4 separate regions of the Homo sapiens genome follow, and regions 1, 2 and 4 are each linked to region 3. The links come from fine-mapping of genetic effects on gene expression. A gene starts in region 3. Each other region holds a variant in brackets. All regions are shown on one strand. Distances are from middle to middle.

Evidence for each region. PIP is the estimated chance that this variant, and not a neighbour inherited with it, causes the effect.
Region 1: its variant is fine-mapped to the expression of EME2 in whole blood (TOPMed, PIP above 0.99).
Region 2: its variant is fine-mapped to the expression of EME2 in lymphoblastoid cells (GTEx, PIP 0.97).
Region 4: its variant is fine-mapped to the expression of EME2 in whole blood (INTERVAL, PIP above 0.99).

What each region holds. Positions count from the first base shown.
Region 1 is chr16:1,925,988-1,933,987 of GRCh38, forward strand. No RefSeq gene overlaps it. Among named protein-coding and RNA genes, the nearest start is that of HS3ST6, 12 kb to the left of the region's middle. The variant C/G (reference allele first, on the strand shown) is at 3,867.
Region 2 is chr16:2,394,674-2,402,673 of GRCh38, forward strand. It overlaps the pseudogene ABCA17P. Among named protein-coding and RNA genes, the nearest start is that of CCNF, 31 kb to the right of the region's middle. RefSeq lists an enhancer at 5,684-6,431. The variant G/A (reference allele first, on the strand shown) is at 3,267.
Region 3 is chr16:1,768,175-1,776,174 of GRCh38, forward strand. It overlaps EME2 (essential meiotic structure-specific endonuclease subunit 2), which reads left to right and starts at 4,636. Exons shown (of 8, transcript NM_001257370.2): 1 at 4,636-5,300; 2 at 5,531-5,667; 3 at 6,086-6,178; 4 at 6,867-6,958; 5 at 7,141-7,234; 6 at 7,395-7,510; 7 at 7,623-7,812; 8 at 7,894-8,000. The coding sequence starts at 5,054. MAPK8IP3 (mitogen-activated protein kinase 8 interacting protein 3) reads left to right here. Exons shown (of 32, transcript NM_001318852.2): 30 at 25-204; 31 at 303-452; 32 at 529-2,177. The coding sequence ends at 650. NME3 (NME/NM23 nucleoside diphosphate kinase 3) reads right to left here and starts at 3,369. Exons shown (of 5, transcript NM_002513.3): 1 at 3,315-3,369; 2 at 3,106-3,236; 3 at 2,896-2,997; 4 at 2,707-2,819; 5 at 2,146-2,592. The coding sequence starts at 3,360. The coding sequence ends at 2,475. It overlaps MRPS34 (mitochondrial ribosomal protein S34), which reads right to left and starts at 4,960. Exons shown (of 3, transcript NM_023936.2): 1 at 4,625-4,960; 2 at 4,430-4,472; 3 at 3,721-4,339. The coding sequence starts at 4,945. The coding sequence ends at 4,047. RefSeq lists enhancers at 445-494, 4,005-4,094, 4,885-5,024, 5,882-6,670, 7,506-8,000 and silencers at 2,605-2,804, 3,115-3,704, 4,575-4,714, 5,075-5,174, 5,205-5,514 and 2 more.
Region 4 is chr16:1,731,831-1,739,830 of GRCh38, forward strand. The region is part of intron 4 of MAPK8IP3 (mitogen-activated protein kinase 8 interacting protein 3); the gene reads left to right. It overlaps MIR3177 (microRNA 3177), which reads left to right and starts at 3,155; the gene lies at 3,155-3,236. RefSeq lists enhancers at 3,134-3,635, 3,636-4,135, 7,448-8,000. The variant CCAGG/C (reference allele first, on the strand shown) is at 3,087.

The DNA of each region.
Region 1 (8,000 bases), 160 kb after region 3:
ATCTCGGCTCACTGCAACCTCCGCCTTCCAGGTTCAAGTGAATCTCCTGCCTCAGCCTCCCGAGTAGCTGGGATTACAGGCATGTGCCACCATGTCCAGCTAATTTTTTGTATTTTTAGTAGAGATGGGGTTTCACCATGTTGGCCAGGATGGTCTCGATCTCATGACCTCAGGTGATCCGTCTGCCTCGGCCTCCCAAAGTGCTGGGATTACAGGCACGAGCCACCGTGCGCGCCTGCCTGTAAGCCCCTTTTGAAGAGTTAGTCCCCCCTGGCCAGCAGACAGGATCCCCAGCAAGGGCACCTCCATTTGCCCTACTTCCGGGGGCAGCACCTCACCCCCGCAGTGGACCAGACAGGCATGTGGCCTGTCTTACTCGGTTCAACGCTCAGGAGGACTCAGAACCTGCAGTCAGGCCGAGAGCTCTAAATTCCTCTTCCCAACCCCCACCCCTGCCTCGCCCCTCTTAGGCTTCACAGCCTTCAAAGTCAACCCCTCCCCCTCCCCCCACCCCTCTGGCCGAGAGCCAGGACTCCATCCCTCATCTCCCAGGCTGGTCACTGCTGTCCTCTCTCTGACTCCAGTTGCCCTCCCTCGCCTTAGACCTGGATACACACCAGGGGCTCCCCGGCTTGGAGTTCTGGGGCCCAGCAAAGAATCATACTCCGAGAGAGACTTCGAGACCAAAAAGGCCATGGAGTTGAGGTGGAAGGGGAAGCCCAGGGCCAGCAGGCCTAGTCCATGGCTGGAAGCAGACCCCAGGGGTCCTGGCACCCAGCCCACCTGGTTCTGGCCACCCTCTCCTCCCCTCTCCTGCATTGCAGCCACCAAACCCTTCGAAGCCAAGAGTAGCTTATAAATGTCCTGGAGATGAAACTCGGTAAGACAGGAAGTCAGGGGCTGAACCATGAATAACCTCCAAGGTTTTACAAGGAGACAGGGAGTGGAGGGCCGTGAGGGGTTGGAAGTGGAGAAAGCTTATCCACAGGTAACCCTGAGCCCCTCCCCAGCCGCCTCCTGGCCCTCTGTCACTGAAGCCCCACCAACCTTCTTCCCAGGGCTTCTTACCCCAAGCTCTGTTAACCACAGCCTTAGTGCCCAGGCCCTGGAGAGGGTGATAGGTGGCTTGAGGACCCTGCATTCCCCAGACCGCCAACACATCCATGTAGATGTGGGGTACACATCTGGCACCCCTCCCAAGATTGTGCAACCCTGAAGGGGAGTACGGAGCAGGTGGTGTGAGTGGGTGAACATTTCTTCATCTGCTGCTGCCGTACGCAGCACCCCGAGGGCTCAGCATTTAAGAAACAGAATGAGGGCCAGACATGGTGGCTCACGCCTGTAATCCCAGCACTTTGGGAGACCGAACTACTGCGCCTGGCCCGAATCAACTAGGTTCTAAACCAGGTTATCACAGTACTGAAGGTGAGGAATGACTGAGCCTTGGGCTGGGGAGGTGGCATTGGTGATAGAGAAAAGGAGACACTTAAAATATATTTGGGGCTGAGTGTGGAGGCTCATGCCTGTAATCCCAGTACTTTGGGAGGCTGAGGCAGGCGGATCACCTAAGGTCAGGAGTTCAAGACCAGCCTGGTCAACATGGCGAACCCCATCTCTGATAAAAATACAAAAAAAAAAAAATTAGCTGGATGTAGTGGTGCATGCCTGTAGTCCCAGCTACTCGAGATGCTGAGGCAGAAGAATCACTTGAACCCGGGGGAGGCACAGGTTGCAGTGAGCCGAGATTGTGCCACTGTACTCCAGCCTGGGCAAAAGAGCAAGACTCCATCTCAAAAAAAAAAAAAAAAAAAAAAGACTGGGCATGGTGGCTCACGCCTGTAATCCCAGCACTTTGGGAGGCCAAGGCAGGCAGATCACGAGGTCAAGAGACCAAGACCATCCTGGCGAACATGGTGAAACCCCCTCTCTACTAAAAATACAAAAATTAGCCGGCGTGATGGCGCGCGCCTGTAATCCCAGCTACTCAGGAGGCTGAGGCAGGAGAATCGCTTGAATCTGGGAGGCGGAGGTTGCAGTGAGCCGAGATTGTGCCACTGCACTCCAGCCTGGGCGACAGAGCAAGACTCCATCTCAAAAAAAAAAAGAGAGAGAGAGAATGAGATGAAGGTGCTGTGGTTGATGGCTTTGAGGAGCTCCTTGACCTAGGATGGGTGAGGCCTGCAAGAGGGTAACAGGGGCCCAGTCTGCATGCACAGAGGAGGCCCACCCAGGCCCCTGCTGTGGGGGAAGGAGAGGACCACTGGGGCAGAGCCCCCAAGAAAAGCTTCTAGAAGGGTTGTGATGCGTGTGGAAGGACAAAACAGAAGAAGGAAAAACAAACTCTAGGAATGCAAGGATGTGTTTCTAGAGTGGGGTCTGGTTTGCCTGGAGGTGCAGGTGAAAGGGTTTGGGTTCAGGTGATGCGGGCAGTAACAACAACATAATTGACTGGGCTGAGGAGCTCACACCTATAATCCCAGCATTCTGGGAAGCCGAGGTGGGGGATCCCTTGAGCCCAGGAATTCAAGATCAGCCTGGGCAACAAAGCCAGAGCACGTCTCTACAAAAAGTTTTTTTAAAAAATTAGCCAGGCACAGTGGCTCATGCCTGTAATCCCAGCACTTTGGGAGACCAAAGCGGGAGTGTCACTTGAGCCCAGGCGTTCCAGACTAGCCTGGACAACATGGCAAAACCCTGTCTCTACTAAAAATACAAAAATTAGCGGGGCGTAGTAGCACACCTGTAGTCCTAGCTATTCGGGAGGTTGACCTGGGAGGATCGCTTGAGTCCAGGAATTCAAGGCTGCAGTGATCCATGGTCATGCCACTGCACTCCAGCCCAGGCAACAGAGAAACCCCCTTCTCAAGAAGAAACAACCAGGCCCGGCGCGGTAGCTCATGCCTGTAATCCCAGCACTTTGGGAGGCCCTGCTGGGCGGATCATGAGGTCAGGAGATCGAGACCATCCTGGCTAACACAGTGAAACCCCGGCTCTACCAAAAATACAAAAAAATTAGCCGGGCGCAGTGGTGGGCGCCTGTAGTCCCAGCTACTCGGGAGGCTGAGGCACGAGAATGGCGTGAACCCGGGAGGCGGAGCTTGCAGTGAGCCGAGATCGCGCCACTGCACTCCAGCCTGGGCGGCAGTGCCAGACTCCGTCTCAAAAAAAAAAAAAAAAAGAAACAACCCCAAACTGTAATTATGATAAACAACACCGATCTCATTTATGGAGTAGGAAATCAAGCTGGAGAGGTGGGGTCAGCCTAGGTCAGAGCAGGCAAGGACTGTGGGAACCTCTGAGGGAGGGACCTGGTCTGGTTATTATTTTGCAGAGAGGACTCTGGTTGGGGGAAGGCAGCCAGGAGCTGCCTGGGTTGTAGCGGGGAGAGGTGGGCGGAGGAAAGAGGCCTGGGATGTGGAACCCTAGGATCTAGCCCTGAGGGCGGGCCAGGTCCGGGCAGCCTGGGTCCCACGCAGCTGCCCTGAAGAAGGGGCTGGGGGCGTCCTGCCTCCACCCGCGCCCCCAACCACGCCTGCCGTTCCCACCGGCCGCGCCACCCCCGCCCCCGCCCCTGGCTCTGTCCTCCGGTGACCCTGGAAGGGGCACCCGTGGCTGCGACTGCACTCCCTGTAGCGGTCACTTCGTGAAGCCCGGCAAACCCCCTGCAGCTGCCCCTGGCACCCTCAGACGACCAGAGGCCTCGGCCTGGGTCCCCAGCACCGGCCCAAGGGCGGGCGTGGCCGAGGCGGTTTCTCTGCGCGGACGCTCGCTGCCTCCGCCGCAACCCCCGCGGCCACCCGGGGAACTGCAGCGCCGTCAGGCCCCCCGCCGCGCCTGCGCACGCAGACCACCCGGCCTGGCAGCAC[C/G]GAGCGAGCGTGCCCCCTGCTGGTCAGTCCTGCGCACGGTCCCGCGCCCGGGCCCGGGAGGCCGCCTCGAGGGCCGGGGCTTGCACGTGGCCTCGGCGCCTTCGCCGACCCTACCGGACGCCCCCTCCTCCCACCTGCCGACCCGTCCGCGGGTAGGAGCCTCCCGGGAGCTGCCCACGGCCCCCACCCCCACCAGGGGCCACAGCCCCACCAGGGCCAGGCTCTGCGCGGCACCTGCCACTGAGAGAGCGGAAAGCGGTGGTTGAGCAAGGGTCTGAAGTATGGTCTGTTCCCCCATACGGGCCGCAGACGCTTCCTGGTGGCTGCTCTGAGCCAGGCCTGGGCCCCGGCGAGGGATCACGGTGTCTCAGACAGAGTTCCTTTTTATTCCCCATCCCTCGCCCGAGGTGACGGCCCAGCCGTGCCCAGGCCTGCCCGCTGCCCCTGAACCCAACCCTTGAGGGGCAAGGCCGTGCCCTGGGGAGGAAGGGGCTGCCCCCTCAGAGTCTGCTGTTCCTCAAGGAAGACGCGGGGGCAGCCGCAAGGATGGGGTATCACCCAGCAGGAGCGGGAGGGTAAGGTGACTGATTCCACACCAGACGCTCCATTGCTGGAAACACCACCCCCTCCTCCGGTGACCTGGCATACAGACCTTGCCCACAGCCATCCCTCCCTGGACTCTCAATGTGAGGGGGCCTTGGGGTCCTGCGGTTCACCCGTCTCCCCACTCAAGCAGTCTGCTTGCCGGCACCCCCCCCACCTCCTGAGCCCACTTGCCCCCTCCCACCCCCACCTCCCTACCACATCTTTTTTTTTTTTTTTTTCCTGAGACGGAGATTTGCTCTTGTTGCCCAGGCTGGAGTACAATGGTGTCATCTCGGCTCACCACAACCTCCCTGAGCCTCAGCCTCCCAGGCTGAGCCTGAGCCTCCCAGGTTCAAGCGATTCTCCTGCCTCAGCCTCCCGAGTAGCTGGTGTAGGGAAAAGAAAGAGAGATCAGACTGTTACTGTGTCTATGTAGAAAGGGAAGACATAAGAGACTCCATTTGAAAAAGACCTGTACTTTAAATAATTGCTTTGCTGAGATGTTGTTAATTTGTAGCTTTGCCCCAGCCACTTTGACCCAACCACTTTGATCCAATCTGGAGCTCACAAAAACATGTGCTGTATGAAATCAAGGTTTAAGGGATGTAGGGCTGTGCAGGACGTGCCTTGTTAACAAAATGCTTACAAGCAGTATACTTGGTAAAAGTCATTGCCATTCTCCAGTCTCAATAAACCAGGGGCACAATGCACTGTGGAAAGCTGCAGGGACCTCTGCCCTTGAAAGCAGGGTATTGTCCAAGGTTTCTCCCCATGTGATAGTCTGAAATATGGCCTCGTGGTATGAGAAAGACCTGACCGTCCCCGAGCCCGACACCTGTAAAGGGTCTGTGCTGAGGTGGATTAGTCAAAGAGGAAAGCCTCTTGTAGTTGAGATAGAGGAAGGCCACTGTCTCCTGCCTGCCCCTGGGAACTGAATGTCTCGGTATAAAACCCAATTGTACATTTGTTCAGTTCTGAGATAGGAGAAAAACCACCCTATGGTGGGAGGTGAGACATGTTTGCAGTAATGCTGCCTTGTTATTCTTTACTCTGCTGAGATGTTTGGGTGGAGAGAAACATAAATCTGGCCTACGTGCACATCCAGGCATAGTACCTTCCCTTGAACTTAATTATGATATAGATTCTTTTGTTCACATGTTTTTTGCTGACCTTCTCCTTATGATCATCCTGCTCTCCTACTACATTCCTTTTTACTGAAATAACGAAAATAATAATCAATAAAAACTGAGGGAACTCAGAGACCGGTGCCAGTGCAGGTCCTTAGTATGCTGAGCGCCGGTCCCCTGGGCCCACTGTTGTTTCTCTATACTTTGTCTCTGTGTCTTATTTCTTTTCTCAGTCTCTCGTCCCACCCGACTGGAAATACCCACAGGTGTGGAGGGGCAGTCCTCCCCTTCAGCTGGGATTACAGGCATGGGTCACCACGCCCGGGTAATCCGGGTAATTCTGTATTTTAGTAGAGATGGGGTTTCTCCATGTTGGTCAGGCTGGTCTAGAACTCATAACCTCAGGTGATCCACCTGCCTCGGCCTCCCAAAGTGCTGGGATTACAGGCGTGAGCCACTGTGTCCGGCCCACCACCTTAACATGGATGTTTGGATGAGCCTGGGGCCCTGGGATGCAGGCAGGAGGCACTACTCCCCAGCCCCCACCAGGATCACCACCCCTGCACTGCTGTGGCTGAGATCCCCAGGCGCCAGCAGGCCTCCAGCCACCCAGCTACCGGCCTGAGCCTGGTAGACAGCCCTGGGGACAAAACCCTGCACACAGGGGCCCAGTTTGCAGGCGAAGGCCAGTCTGCTCTTGGGCCTGAGTCCACTCTCGGGGAAACACTGGCCCCAGGTGCAGAGCTGGGAGTGCTGGGAGAAGGCAGCACAGCCCAGGCCCCTGCCTGGCCCTGTGCCTGGGAAGCCTGCTGCCCATTCAGCAGCTCCCTCCCTGCCGCAGCAGAGCCGCCTTCCACAGGACCTGCCCACAGAGCCCTTCCCAGAGCCACTGCTCCTCCTGCAGGGAGAAGCAGAAAGGGACAGGTGTGGGCATAGAGGACCTGAACTGGCTGCCTAGAACAGTATTGGGAGCCCTGTGCACCCCCTGCCAGACCCGCCATCACCAAATGACTCAGCATGGCAGGACAAGGACCCTGATCAGAGGCCACTGGCAGCCGGCCACATGTGGCCTGGAGTGGCTCAGGTCCCTGGCGGCAGAGGACACAGGGCTTCTCCCAGCTGTGTGGCCTCAGACTAATCGCGTTCTCTGAGTCCCCCTTGTCTCCCCAGAAGAATGAGGCTAAGGAGAGTACCTGCTGCACTGGGGTCAGTCGCTGCAGCGGGCCTGCTCTCACCTGCTGGACTAGGGGGTGGGCAGGCCACAGGCTGGGCTAGGACAGTGCCCGAGAGCCAACGAAGACACTGGGTGGCCAGGGCAGCCCCAGAGCGGGCTCCACTTTAGCTGGTGGCCAGCGTCGGACACACTGGGGTCCAGGTGTAAAAAAATCAGGGCATGGGTGGGAGCTGGAATCAGGGGTTGAGAGACACCCCCCTGCTCTCCGCAGCTCCAGGGAGATTCTGGCAGCTAGCCTCAGTTCTGGCCCCCAGCAGGGCAGAGATGGAGACATTTGCTAGAACAGGAGGCTGCCACAGCACATGCTGGGGGAGGGGCAAGCAGCAGGAAGCCCCTTCTGGGTACGGTCCTCCCCGAAGGGCCCTTGGTGCTTTCATCAACACTGACTCTTCCCAGCACCCGCCCCACGCGCCCCTACCTCTAGACGGAGAGCCCACTGGCCAGCAGCGCCAGGAGTCAGGCCTCTGACCCACAGGGCAGTGCACACAGCACCCATTCAACTGTAGCATCCCCTGCCCGCCCCGGGTGGCTCTCCTGTGCCCTCATCCAACCGGAAGACAGGCTGGGTGCCACTAAGGGAGGCACAAAGAGAGGAAAGTCGAATGTCCCGCCCAAGATCAGGGTCACGCAAGCAGTCCGAGGCCAGCAAGGGAGACAGCGGCCTCTGCCACGGCACTGACTCCACGTCAGAGCAGGGACTGCTAGACCGGGCTGCGGAGGGGCTGGCAGGTGACAGAGTCAGCTCCGTGAGGGGTGAGCAGGCTGAAGGGGCTGGCAGCACGGCTGGCCTCTCCCCGGTCTCCACTGTGGCCTGTACTGCAGGCACTGCCCCTCCTGTGGGGGGACGCTGCCTTCCATTGAGGGTGCCTCTTCCAATTGTACACCCGGAACCGGGGATGACCACGGGACAGGTCCACTGGGATCGGACCCGAGCCAACGCTCCCTCAGTCACTGGGCCTTCATAAGCCCCTACTCTGACCCAGTGACGTCTGACTCCAGAGTTAGCATCGGTTCAGAGCCAGCATCCAGGAGTCCCCAGAAGGTCTCATGATCTCCTTTTCCCCAGTGCACTGCCATAGAGATCCCTTTGGAGAAGGCTGGGAAAAGACGAACAGGATAAATTTGGGGGGTCCTTCCTCAAGGCACCCTGGTCCCCTCCATACAGCGGTGTGGGTCTGAATGGAGGTT
Region 2 (8,000 bases), 630 kb after region 3:
AAGACCATATGATTCCATTTACATGAAGAGCAAGAAGAAGTAAAACTAATGTAAAATTTAGGACATTTGGTTGTCTGAGGGCAAGAGAGGGACTCATCAAAGGGGACATGGGGGCATTTTCTAGGGTGATGGAATGTTCGGTGTCTTGATTAGGGTGATATTACACATTTGTCAAAACTCATCAAACTATACATGTAAGAACAAGATAGTTTACCTAAATTCTGCCTCAATATTTTAAAATGGTTACTGTGATCTTGTTGGCAAGACAGTAGCAATAGCATGAGTACAATTTCAGTAACTGGAAACTGAATGAAGAGCAAGATAGTGAACATACTGAGGGTGTGACTGTTGATCATATTCAGTAAATAGTATTTGCTGAATATTTAACACAGGGGGGCTACTTTGCTAAGCATCTTTACATTTTTCTCAATCCTTACAACTTTTTGAATTAGGTAATATCTGTCTTACAGGTGAGGGAAGATTTGGAAAGGTGAAACAACTAGCTCAAAGTCACAAAACTTGTAAGTGACAGAGTCTAGACTCAAACCCAGCCATGATTAGTTTATAACCATTGTCTGCTCACAGGGACACACACAAAGCCCCTGCAGACCTCGTATAGGCATCTGGCATATGTGTCTGGTTTCTTAAAAGTTGGACACTAGGTTGTGAGAGAATAGAAGCCTTCATTATAGAACATTATGATGGATTTCTTAATATCACAAACAAAAGCCATGATTGTTTTAATTTAAAAAAAATGGAAAGCATGTTTGAGAAAGGTTTTAACATTAGCAGGCTAAAAGAATTATCTCCTTTCCTCGCTTAAATAACAATTAAAACCACTCTCTCTGGAGACGAAAGGCCTGAGCTTGAGTCCTGGCTCTTCTGCTTCTGGCTGTGTGGCCTCAGGGAAGTTTCTTAACTTCTCAGCACTGTCCTCAAAGAGCTGTTGAAAGCATCCACAGACCTTAATACAGAGTTAATAGGTAAAAAACTGTGAAGGGCCCCTGACATTCACATAGTTATAAAGCTAATGACAAAGCTGGTGTTTGAAAAAATACGTTCCTGACTCCAAAGTCCATGCTTTTTCCCCAGTAGAGAGCCAAGGGCAGTGATGAAAGGGATTCACCTTACACCTTTCAGGACTAAAACCATTTCTTTCCTTCCAGGTTTGAATCTCTATTTACTGACTTGGAACTGAGGCAGGTAGAGCTGGGCATCTCCAGCTTTGGGGCCTCTGTCATGACCATGGAGGATGTCTTCATAAGGTAAGCACGTATAAAACTGTAAGACTCCAAGGTTCTTAGGGTTGGAAGGGATCTTAAAGGTCATCTGTCTAAACATTGCCTGATGCTTGAATCTTTTCTGTAGCAACCTCACTGAATGGCCTTCCAGCCTCTGACTAGTACTTCCAATAACAGGGATACCTGAATCTTGGCTCACTGCAGCCTCTGCATCCCAGGTTCAAGCAATTCTCCTGCCTCAGCCTCCTGAGTAGCTGGGGCTACAGGCGCCTGCCACCACACCCAACTGATTTTTGTACTTTTAGTACAGATGAGGTTTCACTATGTTGGCCAGGCTGGTCTCAAACTCCCGACCTCAAGTGATCTGCCTGCCTCAACCTTCCAAAGTGCCTGAGATTACAGGTAACTTTTGTATTTTTAGTAGAGATGGGGATTCACCATGTTGGCCAGGCTGGTCTCGATCTCCTGACCTCAAGTGATCCACCCACCTTGGCCTCCCAAAGTGCTGGGATTACAGGTATGAGCCATTGCACCTGGTCTTTAAACAAATTTTATTGATCCATAATGTGCATATGTCTGGGATACATGTGATATTTTGATACATGCATATTCTACTTGAGACTTGATTGATGTCTGGCTATGGAAATCTTCCATGAGTTTAGAATCCCCAGCTATTATTATCTGTTCATACAGGGCCTCTGCTCAAATATCTCCTCTCGTTTTGGAACTCCAATTAGACATATTAGATCTTATCACTCTACTATGTGAATTTTAACTTTTTAAATATTTTCCAACTCTTTGTCTCTCTGAGCTGCACTCTACATAATATCTTCTGATCTACATCCAGGTCGTTGATTCTCTCTGCAGATGTTTCTGATCTTCAGCTAAACACTTCCATTGAGAGTATTTTCTTTTTTGTGGAGATGAGGTCTCATTATGTTGACCAGGCTGGTCTCAAACTCCTAGGCTCAAGCTATCCACCCCCTTGGCCTCCCAAAGTGCTGGGATTACAGGCATGAGCCACTACACACAGCCAGTTTTTTAAATACTTACATTTTTGTTGAAGTATAACATATATACCAAAAGGTATGCAATTATTAAACCTGTAGCTCAGTTTTCATTTTTTGAGTTTTTGAAATTTTTGTATATTCTAGATATAAATCTTTGTCAGATACGTGTTTTATCTACATTTTCTTCCAGTATGTGGCTTGCTTCTTAATATTCTTAGTGGTAGCTTTTTATTTTATTTTTTTGAGACAGGGTCACACTCTGTCACCTCGGCTGGAGTACACTGGCATGATCTTGGCTCACTGCAACTTCCGCCGTCTAGGTTCAAGGGATTCCCCTGCCTCAGCCTCCCGAGTAGCTGGGACTACAGGTGCACGCCACCACGCCCAGCTAACTTTTTGTATTTTGGTAGAGACGGGGTTTCACCATGTTGGCCAGGTTGGTCTCAAACTCCTGACCTCAGGTGATCTGCCCACCTTGGCCTCCCAAAGTGCTGGGATTACAGGCGTAAGCCACCATGCCTGGCCCCTAAATTTTTTTTATAGTTACTGTGTTCTGTATCCTTTCTAAAAAATATTTCCCTACCCTTAGGTCACAAAGTCATGCTTCTACTTTTTGTTCTAGGAATTTTATCATTTTAGCTTTTACATTAGGTCTGTGACCCATTTTCTATTAATTTTTGTGTATGGTTGTGTGTGTGTGTGTGTGTGTGTGTGTGTGTGTGTGTGTATGCAAGACAAGGTCTCACTCTGTCACCCAGGCTGGAGTGCAGTGGTGTGATCACAGCTCACTGCAGTCTCCAGCTCCTGAGCTTAAGTGATCCCACCTCAGCCTCCCAAGTAGGTGGGACTACAGATGCACACCACGCCTGGCTAGGTTTTTTATATTTTGTAGAGACGAGGTCTTGCAATATTGCCCAGGCTGGTCTCTAACTCCTGGGCTCAAGCAATCTTCCCACCTCGGCTTCCCAAAGTGTTGGGATTATAGGCGTGAGCCACAGTGCCCAGCCTTGTGTAC[G/A]GTTTGATAAGAGGTGAAATGGAAAAACATACACTGTTTTTCTTCTGCTCTCACATCACAGCAATCAACACAGAAGACTTCTATGACAAAATGTGTGGGAATTTCCCGCCAACAGCAAGCAAGCAATCAGTTCTGCAGCAGACACCAGCTAAGTGTCCTCCAATTCAATTCTGACACTATTTGGAGATAGCATCAGATCCCACAGGTCGAGGGCTAGGTTCCACAAGACTTCTCACTTCCAGTGTCAATCACAAGCCCCAGGTTGTTTTACCTGTCCTTTATTTATTTATTTATTTATTTATTTATTTATTTTAAGAGACAAGGCCTCACTATGTTGCTCAGGCTGGTCTCTATCTCTTGGGCTGGGCTCAAGTGATCCTCCTGCCTCAGCTTCCTGAGTAGCTGGGATTACAGGGTTAGCTACCACACACTTACCTGTACTTCTGACCGACCAGCTGTAAACTAGCGATCCTATTACCCCCTCCTTAGGTTCAATTAATTTGCTAAAGTGGCTCACAGAACGCAGGGAAACACATTTCCCAGTTTATTATAAGGATAGTACAAAGGATACAGAAGAAGAGACGCATAGGGTGAGGTATGTGGGAAAGGGTATGGAGCCTCTGTGGCCTCCCCGGGTGTGACACCCTCCAGGAACCTCCAATTGTTCACCTATCTGGAAGCTCCTCTTGGGCCTTCTATGGAGACTTCATTGGATAGGCATGACTAAAGCATGGACAGCTGTGTAGAAATGAGACTGGACAAAAAGAGTATGATGTAATACTAACAGTCTGAGTGGGGAAACGCAGCAAGGCCTGTCTGTTCAGATCCTTCCTGGCCTCTCTGTGCAGCGTTCTTTCCCCCAGGGTATGGTATAGGACACCTTCTAAAACGGGGAGGTCTTATGACCTACAATCAGGCAAGATGGGTCAGAGAATTTCTTTATGGCCAGCTCCAAGACAGAAAGATGCAGGAAGATTATATTTTTAGTTTCTGTGGACTGCCTTGGGGAGAAATAACAGCTACACGAGTTACGGGCCAGGAACTATGAACGAAAACATATTTTATTGACCCGTGTGATATAATGATACCACTGCCTCGTGATAATGATATATCACAGGGGTTGAGGCTCATTTTCTTTCACATAAGTATCCAGATGGGACAGACTATTTGTTGAAAAGACTTTTTTTTCCACATTGAGTTGTTCAGATGCCTTAACCAAAAATCAGTTGACTGTATGTCTCTACATTCCCTCTTCTGTTTCATTGATCTGTTTGTCTGTCCTGTGCTAGTACTGCATTGTTGAGATTGCTGTAGCTTTGCAGTATATCTTAAAGTCAGGTAGTATATTGTTCTCCCAGCTTTATTCTGTTTTTTCTTTTTTTTTTTTTTTTATTGATCATTCTTGGGTGTTTCTCGCAGAGGGGGATTTGGCAGGGTCACAGGACAATAGTGGAGGGAAGGTCAGCAGATAAACAAGTGAACAAAGGTCTCTGGTTTTCCTAGGCAGAGGACCCTGCGGCCTTCCGCAGTGTTTGTGTCCCTGGGTACTTGAGATTAGGGAGTGGTGATGACTCTTAAGGAGCATGCTGCCTTCAAGCATCTGTTTAACAAAGCACATCTTGCACCGCCCTTAATCCATTCAACCCTGAGTGGACACAGCACATGTTTCAGCGAGCACAGGGTTGGGGGTAAGGTCACAGATCAACAGGATCCCAAGGCAGAAGAATTTTTCTTAGTACAGAACAAAATGAAAAGTCTCCCATGTCTACCTCTTTCTACACAGACACGGCAACCATCCGATTTCTCAATCTTTTCCCCACCTTTCCCGCCTTTCTATTCCACAAAACCGCCATTGTCATCATGGCCCGTTCTCAATGAGCTCTTGGGTACATCTCCCAGACGGGGTGGTGGCCGGGCAGAGGGGCTCCTCACTTCCCAGTAGGGCCAGCCGGGCAGAGGCGCCCCTCACCTCCCGGACGGGGCGGCTGGCCGGGCGGGGGGCTGACCCCCCCACCTCCCTCCCGGACGAGGTGGCTGCCGGGCGGAGACACTCCTCACTTCCCAGACGGGGTGGCTGCTGGGCGGAGGGGCTCCTCACTTCTCGGACGGGGCGGTTGCCAGGCAGAGGGTCTCCTCACTTCTCAGACGGGGCGGCCGGGCAGAGATGCTCCTCACATCCCGGACGAGGTGGCAGGGCAGAGGTGCTCCCCACATCTCAGACAATGGGCGGCCGGGCAGAGACGCTCCTCACTTCCTAGATGGGATGGCGGCCGGGAAGAGGCGCTCCTCACTTCCTAGATGGGATGGCGGCTGGGCAGAGACGCTCCTCACTTTCCAGACTGGGCAGCCAGGCAGAGGGGCTCCTCACATCCCAGATGATGGGCGGCCAGGCGGAGACGCTCCTCACTTCCCAGACGGGGTGGCGGCCGGGCAGAGGCTGCAATCTCGGCACTTTGGGGGGCCAAGGCAGGCGGCTGGGAGGTGGAGATTGTAGCGAGCTGAGATCACGCCACTGCACTCCAGCCTGGGCACCACTGAGCACTGAGTGAACCAGACTCCGTCTGCAATCCCGGCACCTCGGGAGGCCGAGGCTGGCGGATCACTCCCGGTTAGGAGCTGGAGACCAGCCCGGCCAACACAGCGAAACCCCGTCTCCACCAAAAAAATACGAAAACCCGTCAGGCATGGCGGCGCGCGCCTGCAATCGCAGGCACTCGGCAGGCTGAGGCAGGAGAACCAGGCAGGGAGGTTGCAGTGAGCCGAGATGGCAGCAGTACAGTCCAGCTTCGGCTCGGCATGAGAGGGAGACCCTGGAAAGAGAGGGAGAGGGAGACCGTGGGGAGGGGGAGGAGGAGGGAGAGGGAGAGGGAGAGGGAGAGCGAGAGCGAGAGCGAGAGCTCAACCCCTACATTTTACAGATGGGAAAACTGAGACCCTATTCTGTTTGTTGAAGATTGTTTTGGGTATTGTAGATCCTTGACATTATCATGTAAATTTTAAAATAAACTTATCAATTTCTTAAAAAAAAAAAAAAAAGAACCTGATGGAAATGCTGTTTCATTTGTAACGATGTACCACCCTAATGCAAGATGTTAAAAACAGGGAAATGGGGCTGGGCACTGTGGCTCACACCTGTAATAACAGCATTTTGGGAGGCCGAGGCGGGCAGATCACCTGAGGTCAAGAAATTGAGACCATCCTGGCCAACATGGTGAAACCCTGTCTCTATTAAAAATACAAAAATTAGCTGGGCGTGGTGTCTCACGCGTGTAATCCTAGCTACTCAGGAGGCTGAGGCAGGAGAATCGCTTGAACCCAGGAGGCGGAGGTTGCAGTGAGCCAAAATTGCACCATTGCACTCCAGCCTGGCAACAGAGAGAGACTCCGTCTAAAAAAGAAAAAAAAAAAATAGGGAAATGAGGGTGGGAGATGTGTATATAGGAAACTCTCTGAACTTTCTGCTCATGGAGGTAGATGCCCCAGCCCCAGTCAAGCCTTCAAGGGACTGCAGCCCTGGCTAATAGCTTAACCGCAGCCTCATGAGAAATCTTAATATAGAAACACCTAGCTAAGCCACTCTCAAATTCTAGACCCCCAGAAACTGTGTGAGATAATAACTTTTACTGTTGTTTTAAGCTACTAACTTTTGGGATAATCTGTGTCACAGCATTAGATAACAAATACACCATGTTTTACAGAACCATACTGAAGGAAAAAAGTCAATTTCCTGGGTTATTTTGGTGTGACAAATTCTTAGTAGAATGATGGCCCAAAGCCTTTGACTAGAAATAGTTTCCTGGCACATTGACACTTTGCTGCCAACCAAACACATCTTTTTGCCTAGAGCAGGGGTCAGCAGACTTTTTCTTAAAGGGCCACACAGCCGGGCGCGGTAGCTCACGCCCGTAATCCTAGCACTTTGGGAGACCAAGGTGGGCAGATCACGAGGTCAAGAGATCGAGACCATCCTGGCCAACATGGTGAAACCCCGTCTCTACTAAAAATACAAAAATTAGCTGGGTGTGGTGGCCTGCACCTGTAGTCCCAGCTACTCCGGAGGCTGAGGCAGGAGAATTGCTTGAACCTGGAAGGCAGAAGTTGCAGTAGGCTGAGATAGGGCCACTGCATTCCAGCTTGGCAACAGAGTGAGACTATGTCTAAAAAAAAGGACCACATAGTAACTATTTTATGCTATGTAGGCTTAGCAGCATAATCAAGGATATTATGTAAGTAATTATATAACTAGTTCCAGGCCAGATACAGTGGCCCATGCCTGCAGTCCCAGCTACTTGGGAGGCTGAGGCAAGAGGATCCCTTGAGCCCAGGAATTTGAGGCGGCCATGAGCCATGATCACCACTGAAATCCAGCCTGGGCAACAAAGTAAGACCCAGGCTCTATTATTTAAGTGTGTGTGTGTGCATACACACACATACTATATACTATTTATATATATATATATGATTATATATACTTACATATATACACTGTAAATGTATATATAATATGTATATATACACGTGTGTGTATATATACATATGTAGTATGTGTATATATATAGTATGTGCGTGTATATATACATATGTAGTATGTGTATATATATAGTATGTGCGTGTATATATACACATATTAGTATATATATTTTACATATATATTACATTTTATTATATAGTACATATATACTTTACATTATACACATATATAGTGTGTGTGTATAGTATATATACACTTTACAT
Region 3 (8,000 bases):
CGCCTCTGGGTTCTCTCCCTGCAGCCAATAAGACATCCCCCACCTCTGGGGAGGGCGCCCGTCCCGGGGGCATCATCCACGTGTATGGCGATGACAGCAGTGACAGGGCGGCCAGCAGCTTCATCCCCTACTGCTCCATGGCCCAGGCCCAGCTATGCTTCCATGGGCACCGCGATGCCGTGAAGTTCTTTGTCTCGGTGCCAGGTGAGGCTGGGCCCCTCCTGCCATCCACATCCCCTGCATGCCAGTGGCCGCCGCCTCCCCCAGGAGGCCGCTGTCCTGAATCGCTTCTGCCATCCCAGGGAACGTGCTGGCCACCCTGAATGGGAGTGTGCTGGACAGCCCAGCCGAGGGCCCTGGGCCAGCTGCCCCTGCCTCGGAGGTCGAGGGCCAGAAGCTGCGGAACGTGCTGGTGCTGAGCGGCGGGGAGGGCTACATCGACTTCCGCATTGGTGAGCGGGGCCCAGGGACAGGGCTGAGGTTGGGCGCGGGGGGAGCCTGGCCGTCACTCTGCTGCTTTGCCCGCAGGAGACGGAGAGGACGACGAGACGGAGGAGGGCGCAGGGGACATGAGCCAGGTGAAGCCCGTGCTGTCCAAGGCAGAGCGCAGTCACATCATCGTGTGGCAGGTGTCCTACACCCCCGAGTGAAGCTGCTGCCCTGCCTGGCCCGACCTGTACATAGGACCCCCGACCACCTGACCCCCGCCCGGCCCGCGGGGTAGCCAGCCAGGCGCCGCCGCCCCTCTTCTAACCTCTCAACCTGCAGCTTTCACCTGAGTCTGGCCCCTCCAGCGGGCAGGGAGTGCGGGGATGCGGATCAGCTGGGAGGAGGAGGGGAGGGGAACTTCCACCCGAGGGGAAGATGCTCTCGGGACAGTTTCCCGGGCAGCTCCTGGCCAGCTTCCAGCCCAGAGTCCTCAAGTCCAGGGCACCTTGGGCCCAGCGCAGGCAGAATCCGAGGTGGTCCTGGCTCTACCCTGGGCCTCCTACTCCCCAGCACCCCTGGAGGAGGCAGGGGCTCCCCGCCGCCGAGGCTGCCTGCCCTGGGCCCACCTCTGCATGCTGCTCATGGGGCCACCCTGCCTCCTGGGCCCTCACTCTGCCTAGGGGAGCTGGGCCAGGCACTAGCCTTTGCCCAGGGAGGTGGGCCTCAGGCTGCCCAGGTGCCTGCACCCCAGCCGGCCTTCTCTGGGGCCTCCCCGTCGTCAAGCCTCTATCCTGTCTGTCCCCACCCCAGCTGTCCCCTGCCCAGGGAGCTGGCATAAAAGCACGAGGCCCGGCTCCCTGGGGCAGCTGCTTGAGAACAGAGACTGCTACCCCATCCTGCCCATGCAGGCAGGCTCTTGCCAGCCCCGTTCTGACCCGTGTCCCCCCAGGCTCTGCCTGGGCAGAAGACTCACCTTGGAGGAGTGGGCCCTGGAGTCCTGTCCCTCCCAGAAGCCCCCAGGGTGGGATTTCTCAGGCTGCCAGGGCAGGCCCAGGCCTCAGGAAGAAGGGGAGGCCCCTGGCCTCTCCGGGATCAGTCCTAGGACACAGGCTCAGCCTCAGGTTGATGGGGGATGATGTGCTCCCGGGGCCTGCCTCCTGCACGGGGCTCCACGGAGCCCAGCTCCCAGACACGCTACTAAGTGCCTAGGGTTGCCCGCTGTGGCCTGCTTCCAGGGAGCAACAGAGAGGCCACCAAGCAGAGGCCCGTGGGGCTGAGGATGGAGCCGCCCCCAGCCGACTCCAAGCCCGCAGAGGGCAGACGCCACCCTGGACTGCTCTCCCTGCCCAGCTGGGCCTCTCTGGCCTATTCCTACCTTCCAGGCCCACTGCACTCCTGTCTGGGAGGCCCTTATGAGGGCAGCCCAGCCCCCGCACCCACCCCCAACCAGAGAAGCACAGATCTTGGGGAGCTGCCCCACAAGCCCCGCTGGCCACCGAGGGCTGCAGCCGCTGCGCTGCCGGCTTCTCCCCACCACCCTGCCACCTCCACTGTGATGTATGTCCGCTCCCTCGTCTGTTCCCCCAGGATCTCGAAGTGACTCCGGGCTGAGCAGTGGGGCGGCTGGGGGAGGGGTGACGATTCTCCTCAGGCTTTGGCCCTGCAAGCAAACCCACATATCTGCTCTGTATGTAATAAATGTCTTAACGTCGTAGCTGCCTGTTCCTGGGCCCAAATCGAAACGAAAACGAGGACTTTATTATAAAAAAACGTTGGACCACGTTGGGCTGGGCACCAGGACAGTGTCCTGGCACGTTTCCAGGCGAGCCGCGCAGGCTCCTGGAGCAGCTCCTCGGGCAGGAAACCCTGTACGCCAGGGATTGGAGAGGCCTGCGCCACCCTCCATGCAACGTCCAGACAGGTGGATGTTCAGCAGCCCGTCCAAAGGGATGCTCCAAGCGCTGTGGGGTGGGGCCAGAAGCCCGCCCACCTGGGCCCTGGAGGAGGCTGGAGTGTGAGAGCCTCTGTGACGCGCATCTGCCGGGCTACTCATACAGCCAGTGCCCAGCGCTGTCCTCCCAGCAGAGGAGCTCGTCTGCGCGGAACCAGAGAGCGATCTCGCGGCGGGCACTCTCCACCGAGTCGCTGCCGTGAATCAGGTTCCTGCGCGGAAGAGGCGCGTGTGAGCGTGGGAAAGAGACCTCCGGCACGGGTACCACGCAGGCTGAACAGGGGGAGGCCGGACGGGGCTGGGACCGTCCCCGGGGCGGGCCTTACTTGCCAACCTCGATGCAGAAATCCCCGCGGATGGTGCCGGGCGGGGCGTCGGCCGGGTTCGTGGCTCCGATGAGCGCCCGCGAGGTGCGCACCACGTCCAGCCCCTGCCATACCTGTGCGGAGGAACGGGCGCGGTATCACGCGGGGGTGGGGGTCCCGGAGCCGCCCGCCCGCTTCCCGGATACTCACCATGGCCACCACCGGCCCGGAGGCCATATACTTGACAAGGCGGCCGTAGAACGGGCGTTCACGCAGCTCGGCGTAGTGCTCACGCAGCAGCTCCTCGGAGGCCTGCGGAAGGGTCAGGCCGCCTGCGCCCGCACCCGGCACCTAGGCGTCCCCAGGTCCCCGCTCCCCTTCCCCCCACACCGCGCCCCCGCTCGCTCACCGCGCCCCCACCTGCACCAGCTTCAGCGCCACCAACTTGAAGCCCTTCCTCTCGAAGCGCCGCACAATCTCGCCCACCAGCCGCCGCTGCACGCCGTCCGGCTTCACGGCCAGGAAGGTGCGTTCGTGTGCGCCGGTGCAGGCTGCGGGGCAGGCGGGGACGGGCCGTCAGGCCGGCCCAGCACCGGCCACCCGCCCCCGGCCCGCGCCGCGCGGCTCACCCGCGGGGAAGAGGTTAGCGAAGATGGTCAGCACCAGGCAGATCATGATGGCGGTGCGGGAGCGGGATCCGCGGGGCGGGGCGGTGGCGCCCGGGGCGGGGCCTGCGCTTAAAGAGGCCTGGTCGGGGCGCTGCGGCCTCCGCGGGGAGGCTGCTTCACTTGCACCCCGGAACCCGGCAGCCGTGGGGGGCCGGAGGGCAGCTGCGGAGGCCAAGTCTCCTCCAGCAGCTCGGACACTAACTGTATCCCCCACAACCCGCCCAGGTGGTTCCACCCACGCGGCGCCCTGCTCCGCACCGCCCGAACCCCGCCCCCCCCGCGCCCCCCCGGCCAGGGCCACGACCACAGCGTCAGCCCTTCTCTCCCCGGTCCTAAAGACAGAGCGCAAAGACACCACGACCCTGGGTACTTCTTTTCTCTTTATTCCCTTTCATAGCTTCTGCCGGGATCCAGGCAGAGAGAGCACTAATGGGGGAAAGGGAGCGAGCGCTTCCCGCTTTCCCCAGCGTGGGCCCTCGGAGTTGGGTGTGGGGGCAGCAGGGCCAGAGGAAAGGCACAGGTGGCGATTTGCCCCAGCCCTCCCCCCTAAGATGCAGACCCTCAGAACACGTCGCGGAAGGTGAGCTCCCTGCTCCGAGAGGCAGACTCGGGTGTAACGCAAAGACGGTTTCTTTCATCAATAAGGTCCCCACTGCCTCACAGCCCCTAAGGCCACCCGCTGGTTCTGGCATTCTAGACGGGGGTGCCCTTGGCCCTTCCTTTGTCTTCCTGTTTTGCAGGGTAATCCCAGGGTTCCATGCGTATCCTCTGCACATTCAGCATGGGCTCCTCGGTGCTTGTGTCTCCATTTTTCTGTCGTTCTGCGATAATCATGGCCCGGAGGAGAGGCGGGTACGGCACGGAGGCCAGGCTGTCTTCCGGCGCCGGCGTGAACGCGGTGAAGGCCTCCTCCTCGTGCTTGGGCACCAGCCGCCAGTCATGGTACATGACGTGTTCGATCTCCCGCGCCTCGCTCTCAGTCTTCCCTGATGAAGAAAAAGAGGCGTCTGCACACACTTGCTGTGCCGTCGGCGGTCGGCATCGAACTGCCGGGCACCCGCTCTCCCGAGCCTTACCTTTGAAGGTCAGGATGCCCCAGGCCTTCCCGTGGTCCAAGTTCTGCAAAGCCAGAAGGAAGCGGGGTCAGCTCGCAAAGCTCTCGGCCCCCGAGGTCAGGAGGTGGGAGCCTCAGCCACGCAAACCTGCAGGGAGGAGGGGAGGCGGGGAGACCAGGCGGCTGCAGGGGCGGGGTGCGGACGGGGTGCACGCACCTGCGCCGTGTAGTCGGGCCGCACCCGCGTGAGGCGCCAGTAGCACGGCTCGTCGTGCTGCCACAGCCAGGACTTGCGCGTGACCAGGCGGCCCAGGCCGAAGAGCGGGAGGCGGCCGAGCAGCTGCAAGAGGCGGCTCTCGCGGCGCACGTCGGCCCAGGCCCGGACCGGCAGCCGGCGTCCAGAGAACGGCCGCGTCAAGGTCTCGTAGTCCACCGCGTAGAGCTGGGAGTCGCGCGGCCTGTTCAGTTGCTCCCGCAGGGCGCGCACGCGGCGGGCCAGCTCCGCGATCAGCCGCGGACGCACCTTCTTCCGCGCCATGGCGGGTCCGCGTCCTCAGCGGTCCGGCCGGAAGTCACCGGAAGAGGCCGGTGTCCCAGGCTAAAGTGTTCGGTCGCGGCCGGAAGCGAGGAAGAGGTCGGTCCGGCCATGGCGCGGGTTGGACCCGGGAGGGCGGGGGTCTCTTGCCAGGGCCGGGGCCGGGGACGGGGCGGGAGCGGTCAGCGGCGACCTCCAACCTGGGAGATCTCAGACTCCGACGCTGAGGACTCCGCCGGCTCGGAGGCCGCCGCGAGAGCCCGGGACCCAGCGGGTGAGCGCAGGGCGGCTGCCGAGGCGTTGCGGCTGCTGCGGCCGGAGCAGGTCCTGAAGCGCCTCGCGGTGTGCGTGGACACAGGTGCGGCGGAGGGCACGGGCGATACTCGGGGTAGGAAAGGCCTTTCTCCGCCAGGCGGCGCCCTCTGTCCGACTGGGCGGGGCGCGCGTGCCGAGGGGCCTGGGGCCGGGCCCGCCTCCCAGTCGGGGGTTTGTGCCGAATGGAGACTCCCCGGTCCGGCCACCCGCCCAGGTAGGGCGCTCGCGAGGGTGGAAGGAAGCAGTGACCGCGCTCCTCTCCCCCGGTCCCAGCCATCCTGGAAGACGCCGGTGCCGACGTCCTGATGGAGGCCCTGGAGGCCCTGGGCTGCGAGTGCCGCATCGAGCCCCAGCGCCCGGCCCGCAGCCTGCGGTGGACCCGAGCGAGTCCCGACCCCTGCCCCCGCAGCGTGAGTGGTCGCGGGTTCCCGAGGGCCAGCCGCGAGTTGGCTGTTTTGCTTCCATGATTTCAGCCCTGGAGCTGTCCCTGAGGCAGCTGCCCTGGGCCGTGCGCGTCTCGCGGATGGGTAAAGCAAGGATGGAGAACGGGAAGTGGAGGTGCCCAAGCCGTTCTGCTGGTATAGAGCCGAGCTGGCTGGAGAAGGTTCCGTCTCGATTCAGGCTGTGGTCTGGATTCCTGCCAGCCACAGAGACCTGGCCTGAGCTTGGCCTTGGCAGGAAAGGGAACACTGGGCTTCTGTAGAGCAGGCCTGTCAGGGCCTGGGCTTGGCTGGGGCCACGAACCGCTTTGCTGCTGGACTGCCCAGGCAGGGCCCCTGGGGCACCCGGGGTTGAGACAGGCAGCAGCGCGTCCCCATGTCCCCACAGCTGCCTCCTGAAGTGTGGGCTGCAGGTGAACAGGAATTGCTGCTGCTGCTGGAGCCCGAGGAGTTTCTGCAGGGCGTCGCCACACTGACCCAGGTGCTCGGGTGGTGGCAGTAGTCCCTCTCTAATCAGGAGGGGTGGGTTCCCAGCCGGGAGGCGCCTGCTCCGCCGGTCCCTGCCCCTGTAGACGGGGCTGGAGGGGGCATGGGGCAGGCCAGGACTCCTCTCTGATCCAAAGCCGTAGAGGTTTCTAGGGTGAGATGGAGAAAGCTCCTGGGCACCTGCGGAGGCTACAGCTGCTCCTAGAGGATCCTGAGAAGTGTCAGGAGGCCGGGGTCCGGGCAGTAGGCTGCAGGCTTCGTCCTCTGACAGCAGACAGCCTGGCCCCTGCCTGCGGGGAGCAGTGCTCAGGTGCTGTGGTGCCAGGTAGCGTGGGGTTAGGCTAGACCCCCTGCCAGGTCCCTGTGTCCCAGGATCAGTGTCTCTCAAGCTGCTGCTTTGTGCTAGGTCAAAGCTAGGCTGGAGTACAGAGGTGGACCAGGATGAGGGGCTCAATGGAACTGACATGTGCCCGAGCAGCCACTCCAGGGTCTCCTTAGCCTCTTTGGCCTCGTGGGAGGCACAGAGCTGGTTTTCTCAGAAGGGGTAACGGAACAGAGGCTCCTCTCGGCACCACTGGCTCTTTTTCAGGCTTGCTGTTCTGCAAACCAGCTGTGGCCTGGTGGCCCATGGCCATAGGCCGCAGCCTCCTGTGAACAACTGTGCCACACGTTCTCATCTTCAGATCTCTGGCCCAACCCACTGGGTGCCCTGGATCTCCCCCGAGACCACCGCCCGGCCCCACCTGGCTGTCATCGGGCTGGATGCCTACCTGTGGTACCGCTCACTCTCATGCCCACAGCAGGGCTGGCTGGGACGGGGGTTCAGGGGAGGTGGGCACACTTCTGGGGTTGCTGTGGCACAGCTGATCCCACTTCTCCAGGTGGGCTCTGGCAGAGGCCAAGCTCGGGCAGGGCAGGCCCCATGGGGAGCGGGGAGGAATGGTCACCTCTGCTCAGGTCTCGCCAGCACGTTTCCCGGGGGACACAGCAGCCAGAGAGCCCGAAGGTGGCCGGTGCCGAGGTGGCCGTCAGCTGGCCGGAGGTGGAAGAGGTGAGGGCCTGTCTGAGCTGGGTGAGTCAGGTGGCCTGGGTCCCAGTGATTGGGCTGCTGGCTGGGTTTGGTTCCCAGCGTGGTACATGGGGCAGCTATCAGCTGTGTGTCCCGGGTAGCCTTCCTCTGGCTCGTGCCCATCAGCTTGCCTCCTCCCCAGGCCCTGGTACTCCTGCAGCTCTGGGCAAACCTGGACGTGCTACTGGTGGCCTCTTGGCAGGAGCTGAGTCGGCACGTGTGCGCCGTTACCAAGGCTCTCGCCCAGTATCCCCTCAAGTGCGTGATGCCAAGGCTGAAGGGGGGCAGGATCACCTCAAGGTAGTGGTGCCTCCCCGGCCTTTTGGGAGCTGCTCACATGAGGTTCTAAAAGGCTTCTCTCTGTCCCCAGGCAGTACCGGGAATCCCAGGCCTTCTCCTTCTGCACAGCAGGGCGCTGGGCAGCCGGCGAGCCAGTGGCAAGAGACGGCGCAGGGCTGCAGGCGGCCTGGCGGAGGCAGATCAGGCAGTTCAGTCGGGTCAGCCCAGCCGTGGCTGATGCAGTTGTCACAGCCTTCCCCTCCCCCCGCCTTCTGCAGCAGGTGGGCCCCTGCCTCCTCCAAGCCCTCCAGGTGCAGAAGCCCCGTCCCCAGGCGCCCTCTCATGCCTTTGCCTGCTCCTAGGCGCTGGAGGCCTGCAGCACGGAGCGGGAGCGCATGGGCCTCCTGGCCGACCTTCCTGTGCCGCCCAGTGAAGGCGGGCGTCCCCGCAGGGTGGGGCCTGACCTCTC
Region 4 (8,000 bases), 36 kb before region 3:
TAGTGTTTGAGGGACTTTCTAGAACATACTGCCTCAAATACTGTGTGGATGAGCCCAGGAGCCTTGGCCAGCCCTGCACTGAGTCTTATTCCTTCCACAGGGTGGGGGTACCGGTGGGTTTCCAGGGCTCGGTGCTGGTTTTCCTCAGAGAGTCGGGGGAGCCTGCCTAGAATGGGTTCCTCTCCGTTTTCTGTGCCCTTTGAATCAGGAGAAAGCCGGGCTGCAGGCCCCAGGGAGCAGAGCATCAGAGATCTTGCCAGGGTATTGCAGCTCCAGGGGACCGGCCATGGGAGACCAGAGACGCGACCTGGGCTGGGGAGGTTGGCGCTCTCGTTCTGAGTCTCCAGCAGCGGGGAGGAAGGGCCTGAAGTCAGAAGCTGCCGTCCTACAGAGCTGGGGCAGCTGGAAGGGGGGAAGCCTGTTTCTGCCCCCAAGCCTCCCACAGCCAGGGCTGCGATGGCAAAAGCCTCCCTCACACCCCATCAAGGCCTGGCCAGCTGCGAAAGCTGCATCGTGCCTGCCTGTTCTGGGGGTTACACCTGCAAACGAGAAGGGTCAGAACGTCCAGCTCTGGGCTTCATGGGTCACGTTCTGGATGATACAGAAGAAGCTGTCAGACTCTGCTTCCGAGTCTCTGGACGTGAGAGCAAATGCACGGTGTGCGCAAAGGCCCAGCTGGCCAGGGGCGTGCCGTGGAGCCTGCAGCAGCAGGTCCTCAGGCAGTCTCGCTGCTCTCAGCTGGAGCAGGGACCTGCAGTTCTCAGGGACTTGCCCTGAGAACGGGCGGCGCCGGCCATCTGCCCACCCAGAGCACCATGAGAACTACGCCAGGGCGTGTGGATGCCAGCTTGCCCCGAGAACAGGTGGTGCCAGCCATCCGCCCACCTGGAGCACCATGAGAACTACGCCAGGGCGTGTGGATGCCAGCTTGCCCCGAGAACGGGTGGTGCCAGCCATCCGCCCACCTGGAGCACCATGAGAACTACGCCAGGGCGTGTGGATGCCAGCTTGCCCCAAGAATGGGCAGCGCCAGCCATCCGCCCACCTGGAGCACCATGAGAACTACACCGGGGCGTGTGGATGCCAGCTTGGCAAGCTGTGAAAGCCTTGCAGGTGTTTCCATCAGATCCCACAGTGGGAGATTCTCATTCGCAGCTCCCGTCTCGTGGCATGCACGCTGGGACATCCTCACCTCTGGCTCTCGGCAGTTGGAAGAGGATTCCAAGCTAACTGGAATTAAAATCGAACCTGGACCCGGGATCTTTGTGTTGTTTTTCAGGGGAGCTGGGGGCAGAGGCAGGCAGTTTGGCCATCCCCTGGGAGCTGCAGCATTCCAGAACCTTCAGCTGCCTCCTTGCCAGCGCAGCCTCAGACAGGAGTGCCTCTGAGGCTGTGTCGGAGGGCGCCTGGGCAGGAGGAGCCCAGCAACAGTGTGCCCAGCTCATCCCAGATCCCAGAGGTGTGACGTGTGAACTCAGGACGCCGGCCGAGAGCCCAGGTTCCGAGTTGCAGTGATCCCCACCCCAGGCCCACAGACAACACCCGAGAGGTCCTGAGAGCCCCAGGGCCATGTGAGCTCAGCCAAGAGCAGAGGCTGCCCCAGCTCCAGAGCCGCCTGATGCTGCCGTCGTCATGGGCCAGGCCAGGCCTACCTGGAAGAGGCGCGTGGCTGCGGGGCAAGGAGTACTTCGTCCTGCATGTTTCTCTCATGGTGTGGGGCAGAAGGTGGCCCAGGAACCTGCTGTCGAGGTGTCCCCGCGGGACCCAGGGACCTGAGCTGAGTCTGGGCTGGGCGCCGCCCCCGTCCCTTGGCTCGTCCTGGCGCCGAGAGTTCAGTGGGAAGCCCCATGGTGGTGCACCTCGTCCTTGTCAGGGCCCCACTGCTGGGGTCCCCTCTGCAGCTCTGCCACGGCTCCTGAAGGCTATGTCAGGGCTGCTGCACTCCCCTCAGGGAACCAGACGGTGCCCTCTGGAAGAAGCCCCTCGATCATTTTGTAAGGGATGGATCTGGGGTGCTCTCTTGTCAGCGCTGCCACAACCAGGTCCTTCTGCCTGACCTGGCCCCAGCCATTCACTTCTTCTGGGCACACAGGACCTTTGGCACCGGCCGTGGGAGCAACGCCAGCAGCAGTGGCTGTGTGGTAGGGGCCTTCCCCAGCCACGGACCCCAGGAAGCCTCCATTTGTGAAACAGGACCCCTGCACCTCTGTGGGAGAGGGAGGGGTCTCATCCAGGTTTACACCAAAGCCTTGGTTGCCATGACTGGATCCAGCCAGAAGGCACCCTGCAGTGGGGTCTGCGCAGCTACATTACTCTGGCCCCTGGGCCTCCTTGCCAGATCTCCACAGCACGTGAGAAGACGTTGGCCCTGCGGGAAGAAGGCGCTGGGGCTGGCGGCCCTGTCTCCCTGAGCATGCCGAGGCCCTGACGGGAGCATGCTCCATGGGGGCGACAGAGGGGCAGGGCTATGGCTGGGCTACCCCTGCCTCCCTCCCTGGCCGGCGGTGGTACTGAGCCGCATCACCAGCGCACGGAATCGGTCACGCCTGCTGTTGCGGTGGTGGCATTAAGAGCCACCTCCGGGCTCGTGTGTCCCCTGCCTCCCCAGGCCGAGACCCTGGCCAGGAAGGAGAGGGTGGGGCTCACGTGCTGTCTGCCACCTGCCTGCAGGCGTGGATGGCAGCCACAGCCTTGTGCCTCTGAAGGCATGAGCCAGCTAAAGGAGGAAGGCACGGCCCCCCTCCCCTGTCCCGAGTGCTTGCCTTTGTGGGGTCAGGGGTGCTGGGACAGGCCTTGGTGATGTATGCTGTTGCTGGGCAGTTGAGCTGGAAGGAGCCCGTCCCTGCTGGACACCTGCTCTCTCTTCTCTGGTGTGGATTCTGTCCTGCCACAACCTTTGGTCCCTTGGGGGACACATATTTGAGTCAGTCCCATCTGCTCAGCCAAAACCCCTTGATTCACCATGAGGGCGCCGTCCATCCTCAGCGCTGGGCGCCCTCCTTCCTGACCCAGATGGACATTTTCCTTCACGCCTGGCGTGGCTTAGTGAGTGTGTGTCTGGAATGCAGTCGGTGTGAGTGCAAACG[CCAGG/C]CAGTGTTCTCGGGCCACTGCTGCAGAGTGTGTGTGTGTCTGTGTGGCCACATGTGTGCCGTCACCACGTGCCATGTGTACACACGTGCCAGGCGCTGTCTTGAGACATTCGCGCAGTGCACGGCACTGGGGACACGTGGCACTGGCTGAACTGCCACACAGCCCCGTTCCAGGGCCTCTTGTCAAAGCCAAGAGGGCTCGTGTGTCGCATGTCTGTCCCTCTTGGGTGCCTGTGTGTGGCTTCTGTCTCATCGGGGTACGGCCGCCCTGCGTGTCTCACATCACCACATCCTGGCCGTCCGTGTGAGCGTCCATGTGACCATCGGTGTGAGCATCCGTGTGAGCATGTGACCGTCTGTGAGTGTGCGACGGTCCATGTGACTGTCCGTGTTTCCGTGTGTGTCCATGTGAGTGAGCGTCCATGTGAGCGTGTGAGCGTCCATGTGAGCATCCACGTGAGCGTTCGTGTGGAACGTGTGACCGTCCATGTGAGCGTCCGTGTGACCATCCGTGTGAGCATCCGTGTGACCGTCCGTGTGAGCGTCCGTGTGAGAGTGTGACCGTCCATGTGAGCGTCCGTGTGACCATCCGTGTGAGCAGCCGTGTGACCGTCCGTGTGAGCGTCCGTGTGAGAGTGTGACCGTCCATGTGAGAGTCCGTGTGACCATCCGTGTGAGCATCCGTGTGACCATCCGTGTGAGCATCCGTGTGACTGTCCATGTGAGTGTGACCATCCATGTGAGCATCCGTGTGACCGTCCGTGTGAGCGTCTGTGTGCCTGTCCGTGTGAGCATCCGTGTGACCGTCCATGTGAGAGTGTGACCGTCCATGTGAGCATCCGTGTGACCGTCCATGTGAGAGTGTGACCGTCCATGTGAGCATCTGTGTGACCATCCGTGTGACCGTCCGTGTGAGAGCGTGACCGCCCGTGTGAGCATCCATATGACCGTCCATGGAGCATCTGTGTGACTGTCCATGTGAGCATCCGTGTGACCATCCGTGAGCATCCGTGTGACCGTCTGTGTGAGTGTGACCGCCCATGTGAGCATCCGTGTGACCGTCCATGTGAGCATCCGTGTGACCGTCCATGTGAGAGTGTGACCGTCCATGTGAGCATCCGTGTGAGCGTGTGACCGTCCGTGTGTGTGACCATCCGTGTGAGAGTGTGACCGTCCATGTGAGCATCCGTGTGACCGTCCGTGTGTGTGACCATCCATGTGAGCATCTGTGTGACCGTCCGTGTGAGCGTCCGTGTGAGCGTGTGACCGTCCGTGTGAGCATGTGTGACCATCCGTGTGAGCGTCCGTGTAAGCATCCGTGTGAGCGTGTGACTGTCCGTGTGAGCGTGTGACCATCCATGTGAGCATCCGTGTGACCGTGAGCGTCCGTGTGAGCGTGTGACCGTGTGAGCATCCGTGTGAGCGTGTGACCGTCCGTGTGTGACCGTCCGTGTGAGCATCCGTGTGAGCGTGACCGTCCGTGTGTGACCGTCCGTGTAAGCATCCGTGTGAGCGTGTGACTGTCCGTGTGAGCGTGTGACCATCCATGTGAGCATCCGTGTGACCGTGAGCGTCCGTGTGAGCGTGTGACCGTCCGTGTGTGACCGTCCGTGTGAGCATCCGTGTGAGCGTGTGACTGTCCGTGTGTGACCGTCCGTGTGAGCGTGTGACCATCCATGTGAGCATCCGTGTGACCGTCCGTGTGAGCGTCCGTGTGAGCGTGTGACCGTCCGTGTGAGCGTGTGACCGTCCGTGTGAGCATCCGTGTGACCGACCGTGTGAGCGTCCGTGTGAGCGTGTGACCGTCCGTGTGAGCGTGTGACCATCCATGTGAGCATCCGTGTGACCGTCTGTGTGACCATCCGTGTGTGACCGTCCGTGTGAGCGTGTGACCGTCCGTGTGAGCGTCCGTGTGAGCGTGTGACCGTCCGTGTGTGACCGTCCATGTGAGCATCCGTGAGCGTGTGACCGTCCGTGTGTGACCGTCTGTGTGAGTGACCATCCATGTGAGCATCCGTGACCGTCCATGTGAGCGTGTGACCGTCCGTGTGACCGTCCGTGTGAGCATCCGTGTGAGCGTGTGACCGTCCGTGTGAGAGTGTGACCATCCATGTGAGCATCCGTGTGACCGTCCGTGTGAGCGTCCGTGTGAGCGTGTGACCGTCCGTGTGAGTGTGACCATCCATGTGAGCATCTGTGTGACCGTCCGTGTGAGCATGTGACCATCCGTGACCGTCCGTGTGAGCATCCGTGTGAGCGTGTGACCGTCCGTGTGAGCGTGTGACCATCCGTGAGAGTGTGACCATCCATGTAAGCATCCGTGTGACCGTGTGAGCGTCCGTGTGAGCGTGTGAGCGTCCGTGTGAGTGTGACCATCCATGTGAGCATCTGTGTGACCGTCCGTGTGAGCATCCGTGTGAGCGTGACCGTCCGTGAGTGTGTGACCGTCCGTGTGAGAGTGTGACCATCCATGTGAGCATCTGTGTGACCGTCCGTGTGAGCGTCCGTGTGAGTGTGTGAGCGTCCGTGTGAGTGTGACCACCCATGTGAGCATCTGTGTGACCGTCCGTGTGAGCGTCCGTGTGAGCGTGTGACCGTCCGTGTGAGTGTGTGACCATTCGTGTGAGAGTGTGACCATCCATGTGAGCATCTGTGTGACCGTCCGTGAGCATCCGTGTGAGCGTGTGACCGTCCGTGTGTGTGACCATCCATGTGAGCATCCGTGTGACTGTCCGTGTGAGCGTCCGTGTGAGCGTGTGACCGTCCGTGTGTGACCATCCATGTGAGCATCTGTGTGACCGTCCGTGTGAGCATCCGTGTGAGCGTGACCATCCGTGTGTGTGACCATCCGTGTGAGTGACCATCCATGTGAGCATCCATGTGACCGTCCGTGTGAGCGTCCGTGTGAGCGTGACTGTCCGTGTGTGTGACCATCCATGTGAGCATCTGTGTGACCGTCCGTGTGAGCATCCGTGTGAGCGTGTGACCGTCCGTGTGTGTGACCATCCATGTGAGCATCCGTGTGACTGTCCGTGTGAGCGTCCGTGTGAGCGTGTGACCGTCCGTGTGACCATCCATGTGAGCATCTGTGTGACCGTCCGTGTGAGCATCCGTGTGAGCGTGTGACCGTCCGTGTGAGTGTGTGACCATCCGTGTGAGAGTGTGACCATCCATGTGAGCATCCATGTGACCGTCCGTGTGAGCGTGACTGTCCGTGTGTGTGACCATCCATGTGAGCATCTGTGTGACCGTCCGTGTGAGCGTCCGTGAGCGTGTGACCGTCCGTGTGTGTGACCATCCGTGTGAGAGTGTGACCATCCATTTGAGCATCCGTGTGAGCGTGTGACCGTCCGTGTGAGTGTGACCATCCATGTGAGCATCTGTGTGACCGTCCGTGTGAGCATCCGTGAGCGTGTGACCGTCCGTGTGTGTGACCATCCGTGTGAGTGTGACCATCCATGTGAGCATCCGTGTGACCGTGTGAGCGTCCGTGTGAGCGTGTGACCGTGTGAGAGAGTGACCATCCATGTGAGCATGTGTGACCGTCCGTGTGAGCATCCGTGTGAGCGTGTGACCGTCCGTGTGTGTGACCATCCATGTGAGCATCTGTGTGACTGTCCGTGTGAGCATCCGTGTGAGCGTGTGAGCATCCGTGTGAGTGTGACCATCCATGTGAGCATCTGTGTGACCGTCCGTGTGAGCATCGGTGTGAGCGTGTGAGCGTCCGTGTGAGTGTGACCATCCATGTGAGCATGTGTGACCGTCCGTGTAGCATCCATGTGAGCGTGTGAGCATCCGTGTGAGTGTGACCACCCATGTGAGCATCTGTGACCGTCCGTGTGAGCGTCCGTGTGAGCGTGTGAGCGTCCGTGTGAGTGTGACCACCCATGTGAGCATCTGTGTGACCGTCCGTGTGAGCGTCCGTGTGAGCGTGTGAGCGTCCGTGTGAGTGTGACCATCCATGTGAGCATCTGTGTGACCATCCGTGTAGCATCCATGTGTGTGAGCGTCCGTGTGAGAGTGTGACCACCCATGTGAGCATCTGTGTGACCGTCCGTGTGAGCATGTGAGCATCCGTGTGTGTGACCATCCATGTGAGCATCTGTGTGAGCGTCCGTGTGAGCGTCCGTGTGAGCGTGTGAGCGTCCGTGTGAGTGTGACCATCCATGTGAGCATCTGTGTGACCGTCTGTGTGAGCATCCGTGTGAGCGTGTGACCGTCCGTGTGTGTGACCATCCGTGTGAGTGTGACCATCCATGTGAGCATCCGTGTGACCGTCCGTGTGAGCGTCCGTGTGAGCGTGTGACCGTCCGTGAGAGTGTGACCATCCATGTGAGCATCTGTGTGACCGTCCGTGTGAGCATCCATGTGAGCCTGTGACCGTCCGTGTGAGTGTGTGACCATCCGTGTGAGAGTGTGACCATCCATGTGAGCATCCGTGTGAGCATCCGTGTGACCGTCCGTGTGAGCATCCGTGTGACCGTCCATGTGAGCATCCCTGTGACCGTCCGTGTGAGCCTCCGTGTGACCGTCCGTGTGAGCTTCCGTGTGACCGTCCGTGTGAGCATGTGTGACCGTTCGTGTGAGTGTGTGACCGTCCGTGTGAGCTTCCGTGTGACCATCCGTGTGAGCATCTGTGTGACCGTTCGTGTGTGTGTGACCGTCCGTGTGTGACCGTCCGTGTGAGCTTCCGTGTGACCGTCCGTGTGAGCTTCCGTGTGACCGTCCGTGTGAGCATCTGTGTGACCGTTCGTGTGAGTGACCGTCCGTGTGAGCTTCCGTGTGACCGTCCGTGTGAGCATCTGTGTGACCGTGTGTGTGTGACCGTCCGTGTGTGACCGTCCATGTGAGCGTGTCACCGTCCATGTGAGCATCCGTGTGACCATCCGTGTGAGCGTGTGAGCATCCGTG